Linked DNA regions of Homo sapiens. The protein of the gene in region 1 interacts with the protein of each later gene in a biochemical or structural test. Each region holds a gene or a part of one and is shown in the gene's direction. Other genes may lie near its edges. The genes, in order: RGS19 and OSTM1.

Region 1 (4,129 bases):
AGGGCCTGGGGTGCCCAGCTGGCGAGGGGGTCGAGGGCATGGGGCCAAGCAGACCCAGGAGGGGACCCAGTGGTGGCTTCCGAGGCATCCCCGCAGGCAGGATGCCCCTGCCACCTCACAGCACTGTCCTGTCCAGGGTCTGTTGGGCCCTGGTGATGAGTGGCCGGTGCCTTGGCCCCAGGGAGCTCATGTATGGCTCTCGTACCTGTCTTGCCAAGGGTGTGTCCGTGTGCTGTGTACATGCATGTGCCCGTTCACGCGGCATGTGCTTTATCCATGCTGCTGTGAGCCAGCCCAGGCTAGGCCCTGGGGGCCTGCGGTGGAGTAAGACAGGCACAGGCCAGGTGCAGTGGCTCATGCCTGTAGTCCCAGCACTTTGGGAGGGCAAGGTGGGCGGATCACCTGAGGTCGGGAGTTCGAGATCAGCCTGACCAATGTGCAGAAACCCTGTCTCTACTAAAAATACAAAATTAGCCAGGCGTGGTGGCGCATGCCTGTAATCCCAGCTACTCGGGAGGCTGAGGCAGGAGAATGGCTTGAACCTGGGAGGCGGAGGTTGCGTTGAGCCGAGATCGCGTCATTGCACTCCAGCCTGGGCAACAAGAGCAAAACTCCGTCTCAAAAAAAAAAAAAGAAAGAAAGAAAGAAAGACAGGCACAGACCCCATACAGTGTGTGGGGTGGAGGGACGTTTGAACAGAGACCCCAATAAGGGAACTGCTGGCCCTGGGGCGATGGCCAAGAGCTTCCCGGACAGCATGCGTGGGGGAAGAAGAGCAGGGGGCGGTGGCGGGGACGTCTCTGGGCATCCCTGTGAGGGTGGGAGTGGGGCTCCCAGATGGTAACAGATTTCCTAGGAGTGTAGGGGAGCTGGTGGATGTTTTCACACCTTGCAGAAGCCTGGCCCTATTCAGGCTTCAGGCCCTGGCTGATGAGAGGACAGCGCTTCTGGATCCAAGGTGGCGTCAGCTGACCCACGGGCAAGCTGGGGGTGGCCAGGGGGCAGTCGGGAAAGGGGGTGGGAGGAGCCCAGGGGCCTAGTTCTGTCAGGACGTTTGGGTGCACGATGTCTGCCAGCCATCCAAGTGCCCTGGAGAGAGGTCAGCCGGGTATGGATTTGGGTCCAGCACTGACAGGATGCTAGGAGCCAAGGCAAAGAAGCTGCTTCCCTTGAGACAACCGGGGATCAGGCTCCAGAACCTGAAGGAGTGTGGACACGGGTTTGGGGCTCTCACCTGCGTCAGCCGACGAGAGACACTGCTGACACGCCAGACCTGCAGCGTGTGACCCCATCGGTGGGACAGGGACAGGCCAAGATCAGGCCCAGGAGCAGGGTGGCCCTGTTCCCAGGCACATTCCCATGGGTGGCCCTGTTCCCAGGCACATTCCCATGGGTGGCCCTGTTCCCAGGCACATTCCCATGGGTGGCCCTGTTCCCAGGCACATGACCCTTCTGGCCTCCCAGGTGTTCAGGGATCTCCCAGCTCCTTGTGGCCCCTCATCTTGCCCCACCCCATCTCCCCCAGGGGAGCAGAGGCAGAAGGGGAGGTGGCATACCTGCTTCTCAACCTCATGTGGGGTGGGCATGGGTGGGTGGAGGAGGTTGCCCAGTGGGCCAGGGATGGGGAGGAGCACACCAGGAGCCGAAGGGCCCCTCCTGGAAGGCCAGAGACTCGCGGGCACTGGGTCACACTGCTGGAATGGAAGACGGCAGAGTCTGTGGTCTGGGCACTGTGGCAGGGACAGTAACCTGGACTGCAGATTCTGTGGGGAATTTGGGAGTGTGGGAGAGTGTGGGAAGAGCCAGCTCCAGGGGCTGCCCTCCTGCAGTGGGTGCCCATGTGTGTCAGGTGCCTGCAGGGGCTGCCCTCCTGCAGTGGGTGCCCATGTGTGTCAGGTGCCTGCCCATGTGCTGAGGGCCTGTGTGGCCGTGGAGGCGTGTGTGCCCACGGCAGCGCTGCTTCCTCTCTGCCACTAGGAACCAAGAGCGGCGGCGCGCGTGGCAGGCCTCCCGGGAGAGCAAGCTGCAGCCCCTCCCCAGCTGTGAAGTATGGTGAGTCCAGCCGGCTGGTGTGTGCGTGCTGGGGGGGCCCCAGACCGGGAGACTCGGGCCTGACATAGCCTGGCCCCCGTGCCCACAGTGCCACGCCAAGTCCTGAGGAGGTGCAGAGCTGGGCGCAGTCTTTTGACAAGCTGATGCACAGCCCAGCGGGACGCAGCGTGTTCCGGGCGTTCCTGCGGACAGAGTACAGCGAGGAGAACATGCTCTTCTGGTTGGCCTGCGAGGAGCTGAAGGCCGAGGCCAACCAGCATGTGGTAGACGAGAAGGCGAGGCTCATCTACGAGGACTACGTATCCATCCTGTCCCCCAAGGAGGTGCGCCAGACACCAGAACAGGCCGGGGGCCGCCTGCTCCAGGCACTAGGTGGGGAAGGCAGCTCCCGCACCCCCTGACCTCAGTGTCTTGTCCTGCAGGTGAGCCTGGACTCCCGTGTGCGGGAGGGCATCAACAAGAAGATGCAGGAGCCGTCCGCACACACGTTCGACGACGCGCAGCTGCAGATCTACACGCTCATGCACCGGGACTCCTACCCCCGCTTCCTCAGCTCTCCCACCTACCGTGCCCTGCTGCTGCAGGGGCCATCACAGTCCTCCTCCGAGGCCTAGGCCGCCCCCAGCAGCACAGACCCCGCCGCCTCCTACGGCCGACTCTGGGTTCCCTTCAGGTGTTGTTGTCGGCAGGGCTGTCAGGGCACATGCCTGGCCGGCTGGGGTCCCCACCCGCGGAGACGGTCCTAGACCCAGTGGGGAGTGCTGTGTCTCCTGGGTCTGCCCACCCGTGGCCAAGCAGGAACTCCAGGTGCAGGGCGGGCCTCCAGGTGCAGGGCGGGCCAGAAGCCCCCTCATCGGCCCGCAGCTGGCTGGCCCAGTGCTCCTGGCTGGGGGCTCTTGCGTGGTGAGAGTAGGGGTCCCCCCAGGAGCCATGCTGGACCCATGAGCCTCGCTGGGGCCTCCTCCCCAGGCAGCCAATGGGCCCCAGACAAGCCTTTGGTGGGGAACAGAACCTCCGCATCGTGTAGTTTTGTGACATAAGGAGACCTCCTACTTGAGCTGTCTGTACCCCAGAATCAAACACAGAACCTCAGAACCAGATTTAGGACCTCAGAATCCTGCACTCAAGGTGGCAGGACCCAATTTCTGTTTTATATGTTCATGAACTTTAAACCTGGAAACATGTCCTTACTAGGTGTTTTATCAAAAAAAAGTTTTCATATTTATCTCTATCCCTAACCCCCCAAAAATAGGATGTCTTATTATTGAAGATATTTTTAAAGCAAAGTCTCTACTCATTTTTGTCCAAGTCTGGGGAGAGACTGGAGAATGAGTGGCCCCAGACTCAGGGCTGGGGAGAAGTGTCCTTGTCCCAGGGCAGGGGCTCCAGTGCCCCTTGGAGGGGACACACAGCCGTGTGCTTGCCCTCTTCCCATGCCCTGGCCTCCACCAGACCCCTCCTCAGAACAGTGGTCCCAGTGGGTGGCTGTGCTTAACCCTGCCCGGGGCATGAGCTCCACGCCCTCGGCCTCAGCCTCCTTAGCTGAAAGTCGGGCCAGAACAGTGACCCACAGCACCTCAGAAGTCGAGAGGCAACAGGAGGTGCCGCCCAGGCCCAGCCGGACGGGGTCCCCAGAGGCAGGCTGGCTGGGGCAGGAGGGGCCACTTGGTGCCAGGCCCAATGTCATCTTTCTCATCTCACAGGCCCCATGAGTTGAGTGCTCACCAGCCCATCCCCTGCATTTCTGGGAAGTTAAGTGAGTTGAAGCTGAAATTGGCTCAGGGCCCTGAGACCACAACTCCCACAAGAACAGAGAAGGCAGCATGGGGACAAGCTGTCCTGAAGTGCCGAGAGGTCCCGAGCTGCCCATGCCTGAGGCGTTGGGGAGGACACTGCCCTGCACAGGACGCACACAAGACCCTCTCCCCACCTGCCCTCACAGGCAGAGCCGCCCCAGGTGATCTCTGAAGGTCAGCCAAGCTCCTCTCCTGGGGCTGACCCACCAGGGCCAAACCCAAGCACTGCCCAACCCCAGGGAGGGGCCTTGTCCACAGCAGTGGAAACGGGTCAAACATGG
Region 2 (7,291 bases), on another chromosome or scaffold:
GCTCGCCTTATTTCCCCAGTAGAGCTGGATATGATTCATTAGCTCAAAAGTGTGACATCTACAGTTCTGAGGTACTTTATAGATTTAAAAGGCTATATGGACTGGTTTGGGAGTTGAACCATCATGTATAATAATGAACTTATGAGGCCAGGTGTGGTGGCTCGTGTCTGTAATCCCAGCACTTTGGGAGGCCAAGGCAGGCAGATCACCTGAGGCCAGGAGTTCGAGACCAGCCTGGCCAACATGGTGAAACCCTGCCTCTACTAAAAATACAAAAAAAAAAAAAAAAAAAAAAAATTAGCCGGGTGTGGTGGTGCGCAGCTACTCAGGAGGCTGAGGCAGGAGAATTGCTTGAACCCGGGAGGTGGAGGTTGCAGTGAGCCAAGATAGTGCCACCACTCTCCAACCTGGGGGACAGAGTAAGACTCCGTTGCAAAAAAAAACCAAAACAAAACAAAACAAAAACCTATGGAAAAATGTGTCATGAGTGAACTTGAAGGAATTAGTTGTCTCTTGGGGAGGTTTATTTATCCAGTGTAGTATATTTTCTTTTCTTTTTCTTTTTTTTTTGAGACAGAGTCTTGCTCTGTTGCCCAGGCTGGAGTGCAGTGGCATAATCTCAGCTCACTGCAAGCTCCACCTCCCAGGTTCATGCCATTCTCCTGCCTTAGCCTCCCAAGCAGCTGGGACTACAGGCGCCCGCCACCACGCCCGGCTGATTTTTTATATTTTTAGTAAAGACGGGGTTTCACCGTGTTAGCCAGGATGGTCTCAATCTCCTGACCTCGTGATCTGCACACCTCGACCTCCCAAAGTGCTGGGATTACAGGTGTGAGCCACCACACCCAGCCCTTTTTTTTTTTTTTTGAGACGGAGTTTCCCTCTTGTTACCCAGGCTGGAGTGCAATGGCGGGATCTCGGCTCACTGCAACCTTCGCCTCCCAGGTTCAAGCGATTCTCCTGCCTCAGCCTCCCAAGTAGCTGGGATTACAGGCGCCCACCACCACGCCTGGCTAATTTTTGTATTTTTAGTAGAGACAGGGTTTCACTATGTTGGCCAGGCTGGTCTCAAACTCCTGACCTCAGGTGGTCCACCCGGCTCGGCCTCCCAGAGTGCTGGGATTACAGGCGTGAGCCACCACGCCCAGCCTATCCAGTGTAATGTATTTTGTTTGACTCAGACTCAGTCTTTTATTGAAATCAGTTTTTAGCAAGCACCTACTATTCTTGAATATTGGGCTGGTAAAAGGATAAGAAGGAAAAGAAGGGTAAGATTCAGGCCTCAAACTATCAGTATAGTTAGGGGAAATAAAATACCTTATATGGGGAAATAGGAAAATATCAGTGAGTGTTATAAATTGTACCATAGCAATTTAGAACAAAAGAGTGAAAGGAATGCCAAGTTAAAGGAGGGAACAGAGCCAGATGCAGTGGCTCATGCCTGTAATCCCAGCACTTTGGGAAGCCGAGGCAGGTGGATCGCTTGAGGCCAGGAGTTTGAGACCAGCCTAGCCAACATGGCAAAACCCCGTCTCTACTAAAAATATAAAAAATTAGCCAGGAGTAGTGGCATGTGCCTGTAATCCCAGCTACTCAGGAGGCTGAGGTGGGAGAATCACTTGAGCCTGGGAGGCTGAGGTTTCAGTGAACCAAGTTTGCACCACTGCACTCCAGCCTGGGTGACAGAGCAAGACTCCATCTCAAAAAAAGAAAAAAAAAATGACGGAACAGAGCAAGGCTGGTTCATCAGGGGAAACCTACAAGCTGAATCTCAAGGCATTCTTTCTACCCTTCTTTAGTGTGAATGGACATGGATTGATTGAGAGAGGAGAGGAGTATAATAAGGAGAAAAAAAGAATCAAAGCCAGAAACTAGTAAGCTATTTATGTGGTACAGCAATATAATTAGTTTAACTATAATAGAATTCCCTGATAAGAATCCTAGGTTCTTGTCACTTCCTTTTAGAATTTCTGGGAGAGGGATCGCATATAGTTTCATTATCTCAAGGTGAAAAATACAGTGATTTCTGAAACCTGAATGATAGAACTGAGGGATTCCCTCTTCCTTAGAGTCATACTTTCTCCTTTTAGTTTAAACTGATAGGGACATAGTTTCATTGTGATTCAGCATTATCGGAATGGTCCTGAGGATGCTTTTGCCCCCTCAGATTCTGAATTGGTAGGCTCTGTCCTATTCTACTTGGTTTGTTTAAAATTTAGATAGTGTTTAAAATTTAGATCTATAGATCCATCCATCTACCTATCTATCTCTATCTATCTATGTATCTGTGTATCTTTGTGAAGTGCTAGTCATTTGGGTTATGTATTTGGTGAGTATTCAATATACTTTTACTGTAGATTATTAAATAATGAATTCTGAGGACTATAGGGAGAAAGCCAGAACATAGTGTAATAATCTGTGTCTTTCATTAGAGATCAGAAAATGTAATATTTCTTCTGCATTCATTCAAAAAAATTATTGAGTACCTATTATGTACAGGTTGTGGTAGCTACTAGGGATATAGCATGAATGAGCAGAGCTTGTAGTCTGAAGACAGACATTAAGCATCTCATTATACAAATAATTATTTAATTCATGTGTGATAAGTGTTGCTGATTAAAAAACCCAGATGCTACCAATGCATATGACAAGAGTGCTGATCTTGAGTATGACTGGGGGGTAGGTAGAATGGTCAGTGATTAAAGCAGACACCTACAATTTGAGAGAACACAGGCAGGGGAGGGAAGGTATACATGTAAAGAAATAGCAGGCATGAAGACTGAGATGGGAAGGAGTTTGTGGTGTATCTGAGGTCTAGAACACAGCACAGTGAGCAAGAAGGAAACCCGTGGTCTGAGCCTAAGGAAGTACACAGGTGCCAGGTCATGTGGGCCTTGTAGGGTATGTTAAGGATTTTAGACTTTGATTTTAAAGCAGTATGACGTTAGTGAAAGGTTTAATTCTGTGGAATGACATAATCAGATTTGTACTTTAAAAGGCTATGCTGGCTATGTGACAGAAAATGGAGAGGGTAGGGGCTGGGGAGGGTAGGGGAAGAAGATATGTGGGGAGATGAATTAGGAGACTGTTGCAGTGGTGTGAGAGACAGTGGTGTCTAGGCTATGTGGGGGCCATCATGATGTGGAGAAATGGGTGGATTTCAGAGATACTTAGGAGGCAGAAATTACAGGCTTGGAGGTTAATTGAATGTGGGGAGTAAGGAAAAGGTAGTGATGATTTCCAGGGTTTTAATAAGAGCAGCTTAATGAATAGGGTTGTCATTTACTGAGCTGGAGGGAGGAGTCTGTTTAGTGGGCGAAGATCATTAACTCAGTTTTGAACGTGTTGATTTTGAGGTGTTTATGAGCTTTCTAAGTGGATATATTGATTGCCTATGTGGTTGAATATACACATCTAGAGGACTGGACTAGAGATAACACCTTTGGGAGTGTCGGCATAAAAATGGCATTTGAAATTATGACATGGGTGAACATACCTGAAGAATGAGTAGGAACACTAAGAGTTTAAGATTAAATAGAGGGTAAACTCTCAAAGGTGACTGAGAAGGAAGAATTGGAGAGATAAAGAAGAATGAGGAGAGCATGATGCCCTGTAAATCAAGGAAAAGGGAAGGGGTGGTTATTTGTGTCAAATCCTGCTGAGAGAATTGGAGATATATCTGTCAACACTGGCAGTATTGGTGACACTAACAAGAGTGAATTTGATGGAGTCCTTGGGTACGAAAGTGAGATCAGAGTGGGTTGAACAGGGATTGGAAGATGAGGACATGGGAAGAGTGAACCTAGACAACTGCTGAAGAGTTTGGCCTTGATGGGGAGATAAGAAAGAGAAGTCACTAAAGAGCAATGTGGGACTCAGAGACTTTCTTTCATTTCTCTTTCTCTATTTTTTTTTTTTTTTTTTTTTTTAGACAGAGGCTCGCTCTGTCAACCAAGCTGGAGTGCATGGCACAATCTCGGCTCACTGCAACCTCCACCATCCCAGGTTCAAGCGATTCTCCAGCCTCAGCCTCCTGAGTAGCTGGGACTATGGGTGTGCACCACCACACCCAGCTAATTTTATACTTTTAGTAGAGATGGGGTTTCACCAGGTTGGCTGGACTGGTCTCGAACTCCTGACCTTAGGTGATCTGCCTGCCTCGGCCTCCCAAAGTATTGGGATACAGGCGTGAGCCACGGTGCCAGGCTGACTTTCTATCATTTCTTTCCATTCCCCTGTCCCTCCATTCCTCTGTCCTGCCTTCCCTTCTTCCTTGTCCAAGATGGGAGAGAGCTGGACATGTTTAAATGTTGATAGTAAGGGTCCTTTAGAGAAAGTGAAGATTCTGTAGGAGGGAGTGGGAAGCAGACAAGGTCAGTTTCCAGAAAAGGCAGGATAGATGGGATCTAGGGCATCCTCAGAGAGATGGGCCTTGAAAAGGACAGGTGCCTTCCCCACCTTAATGGGAGGGTAGAAGGAGAGGTTGCATGTAGGGGTAGGCAGGTTAGAGTTTCAGCTCGAAGGCTTCTGTTATCCAGGAGGCTAGATCTTCTTTTGAGAGTAAAGAGTGGGAGAGAGATCAGAGTTTCTGGGAGAGTGGAGAGGATTTGAAATAGCGGTTGTAAAAAGGAGAGAATGAGCAGACAGAAAAGTGAGGAGTACGGTTTGGGATTATGGATTTACTTTGGAATTAATCTGTGTTGTTAATTTTTTGCCAGCAGCTCCTGACTTCCTGGGTGCAGGCATGATCAAAGGAAATGGCTGGCTTCAAGATGGTTAGGGTTCTGCTAAGTAGTTAGGATAGATTTGAGTATTAAGAGTTCTAAGTATAAGCAAGGACCATTGATTTTTTGGTCACTTGGCGAGGTGTTGGGAATACAAAGATGTGACAGTTTCCATTTTAAAGGGACATCTGTCCAGAAGAGAAACCTAAACATATATAGGTGGATATCATGCTTTAAGAAACCATGCATCAGGGTAATGACGCATGGGTCCCACATTGCTCTTTAGTGACCTCTCTTTCTTATCTCCCCATCAAGGCCAAACTCTTCAGCAGTTGTCTAGGTTCACTCTTCCCATGTCCTCATCTTCCATTCCCTGTTCAACCCACTCTGATCTCACTTTCACACTCAAGGACTCCATCAAATTCATTCTTGTTAGTGTCACCAATACTGCCAGTGTTGACAGATGTACCTCCAGTTCTCTCAGCAGGATTTGACACAAATAACCACCCCTTCCCTTTTCCTTGATTTACAGGACATCATGCTCTCCTTATTTTTCTTTATCTCTCCAATTCTTCCTTCTCAGTCACCTCTGATAGTTTACCCTCTACCCAGCTAACACTACCTATTTCATAGAGTTGTTATGAGGATTAAATAAGGAAGTTGGAACATTTGGAACTGGTAAGTAGTAAGTACCTCATCATCGTTTGGATTATTAATCATTTCCTTTCTGTCCTCACTGTTGCCATCATCCTTTCATTATACCTGATCTATGGAAGTAGTGTAATGAGTCTCCCTGCCTCCTCACCCTACATATCACGGCCTAAAGATGTATTCCTCAAACTGCTTTTCATGACACCCTCCTCATAAATCTTAAAGAATTTCTCACTGGCTAACTCTCATGACCCTCACGGCCTCTCATAACCTTGTTCTAACTTAGCCCTTTAATAGCCCTACTTTCATAGACTACTGAATACTCTCCGAATACCACATAATCATTATCACTTTCACCCCATGATCATTTAATTCTTCTATTTTCGAATCCTCTTCTCTTCCTCAATATAGGGCTTAGTTCATATCCTGCTTCCTTCATGAACTCTTTCCTAATTTCTCAAAACTACATTGATATCTTCCTGAACCGAACTGTTCCACACATTGAACACTCATACAGGCTCTACTGTATTGATTTTTAAAATAGCCAGTCACCCACTTATGAAGATTCAACTTAACCAACTAATGACACTTATCCAACTAAACCTACTTAGAGCACTTCAGGTTGGCAGCATGGTAGCTAGGTGAAATAGCATATATCAGTCACTGTGTGCCAGACAGTGTGCTGAGTGATTAATGTATGCTATTTCATTTAATACAGTAACTGTAGGACCCCTGATTTTGAAACTGAACCTTAGCGAGGTTGGGTCAGCTGCCCAAGGTCACTAGCTAGTGACCCAGGCTTGTATTAATACAATATTATTACTTCTACTTAAGAAGTGATAATAGGCCAGGCATGGTGGCTCATGCCTGTAATCCCAGCACTTTGGGAGGCCGAGGCAGGTGGATCGTCTGAGGTCAGGAGTTCGAGACCAGTCAGGCCAACATGGTGAAACCCCGTCTGTACTAAAAATAAAAATTAGCCAAGCATGGTGGCATGTGCCTGTAGTCCCAGCTGCTCGGGCGGCTAAGGCAGGAGGATCGCTTGAACCCAGGAGGCAGATGTTGCAGTGAGCTGAGATTGCGTCACTGCACTCCAGCCTGGGCGATAGAGTGAGACTCCATCTCAAAAAAAAAAAAAAAAAAGTGATAATAGAAAATTTTCTTCTATGGCTGGTATTGCTCAGAAGGTAATTCTAAAAAAGAGTTTTAAAATGTTCTGTTCATGGCCAGGTGCAGTGGCTCATGCCTATAATCCCAGCACTTTGGGAGGCCGAGGTGGATGGATCATTTGAGTTCAGGAGTTCAAGATCAGCCTGGCCAACATAGTGAAACCCCGTCTCTACTACAAACACAAAAATTAGCTGGGTGTGGTGGCATGTGCCTGTAGTCCCAGCTACCTGGGAGGCTGTGGCATGAGAATCGCTTGGATTTTATATTTTAAAGCAGAAATTCTTCCTTTTCTCCCTCTTTTCTCCTTTTTTCCATTTCTTCTCCCACATGACTGACCATTTGTTTCCCAGGAGTTACCACTCTTTTATTATTCATCACACTGTATAACTCCTTGTCTGTGTAACTGCGAGAGGTTCTCAAAGCCCCAGAATTGATGGCATTCTTTTATACTTTTTATATCCTCAGAACTTCAGGATTTTTATAGTGCCTAGTAAATAGTAGGAGTTAAATAACTTTGAAAGAATTAAGGGTCAGCAGGACTTAGTTCCTTGCTTGGGGCACGAAGGAAAGGAAATAGATAAGGATCAAATGATTTGGGAACTTGGATTTATTATTTGCATAGCATGAGTTTCTTTCATTATTAAAATGATCTACAAAAGCATATTTTTCCATCTGGGTACAAACTATTTAGATAACAAAGATTTTCTTCCTTTGCAAGTGAACCTAGTACCAATAAATGTTAGCTG

The links.
Region 2: the proteins of RGS19 (region 1) and OSTM1 form a complex in vitro, tested with the Homo sapiens proteins (one study listed by BioGRID).

What each region holds. Positions count from the first base shown.
Region 1 is NC_000020.11:64,072,390-64,076,518, reverse strand, and holds the end of RGS19 (regulator of G-protein signaling 19), read left to right. Parts: intron 1-1,977; coding exon 1,978-2,052; intron 2,053-2,140; coding exon 2,141-2,375; intron 2,376-2,474; coding exon 2,475-2,666; 3' UTR 2,667-3,338; downstream 3,339-4,129. UniProt on the Homo sapiens protein: Inhibits signal transduction by increasing the GTPase activity of G protein alpha subunits thereby driving them into their inactive GDP-bound form. Binds to G-alpha subfamily 1 members, with the order G(i)a3 > G(i)a1 > G(o)a >> G(z)a/G(i)a2.
Region 2 is NC_000006.12:108,064,467-108,071,757, reverse strand, and holds part of OSTM1 (osteopetrosis-associated transmembrane protein 1 precursor), read left to right. Parts: intron 1-7,291. UniProt on the Homo sapiens protein: Required for osteoclast and melanocyte maturation and function.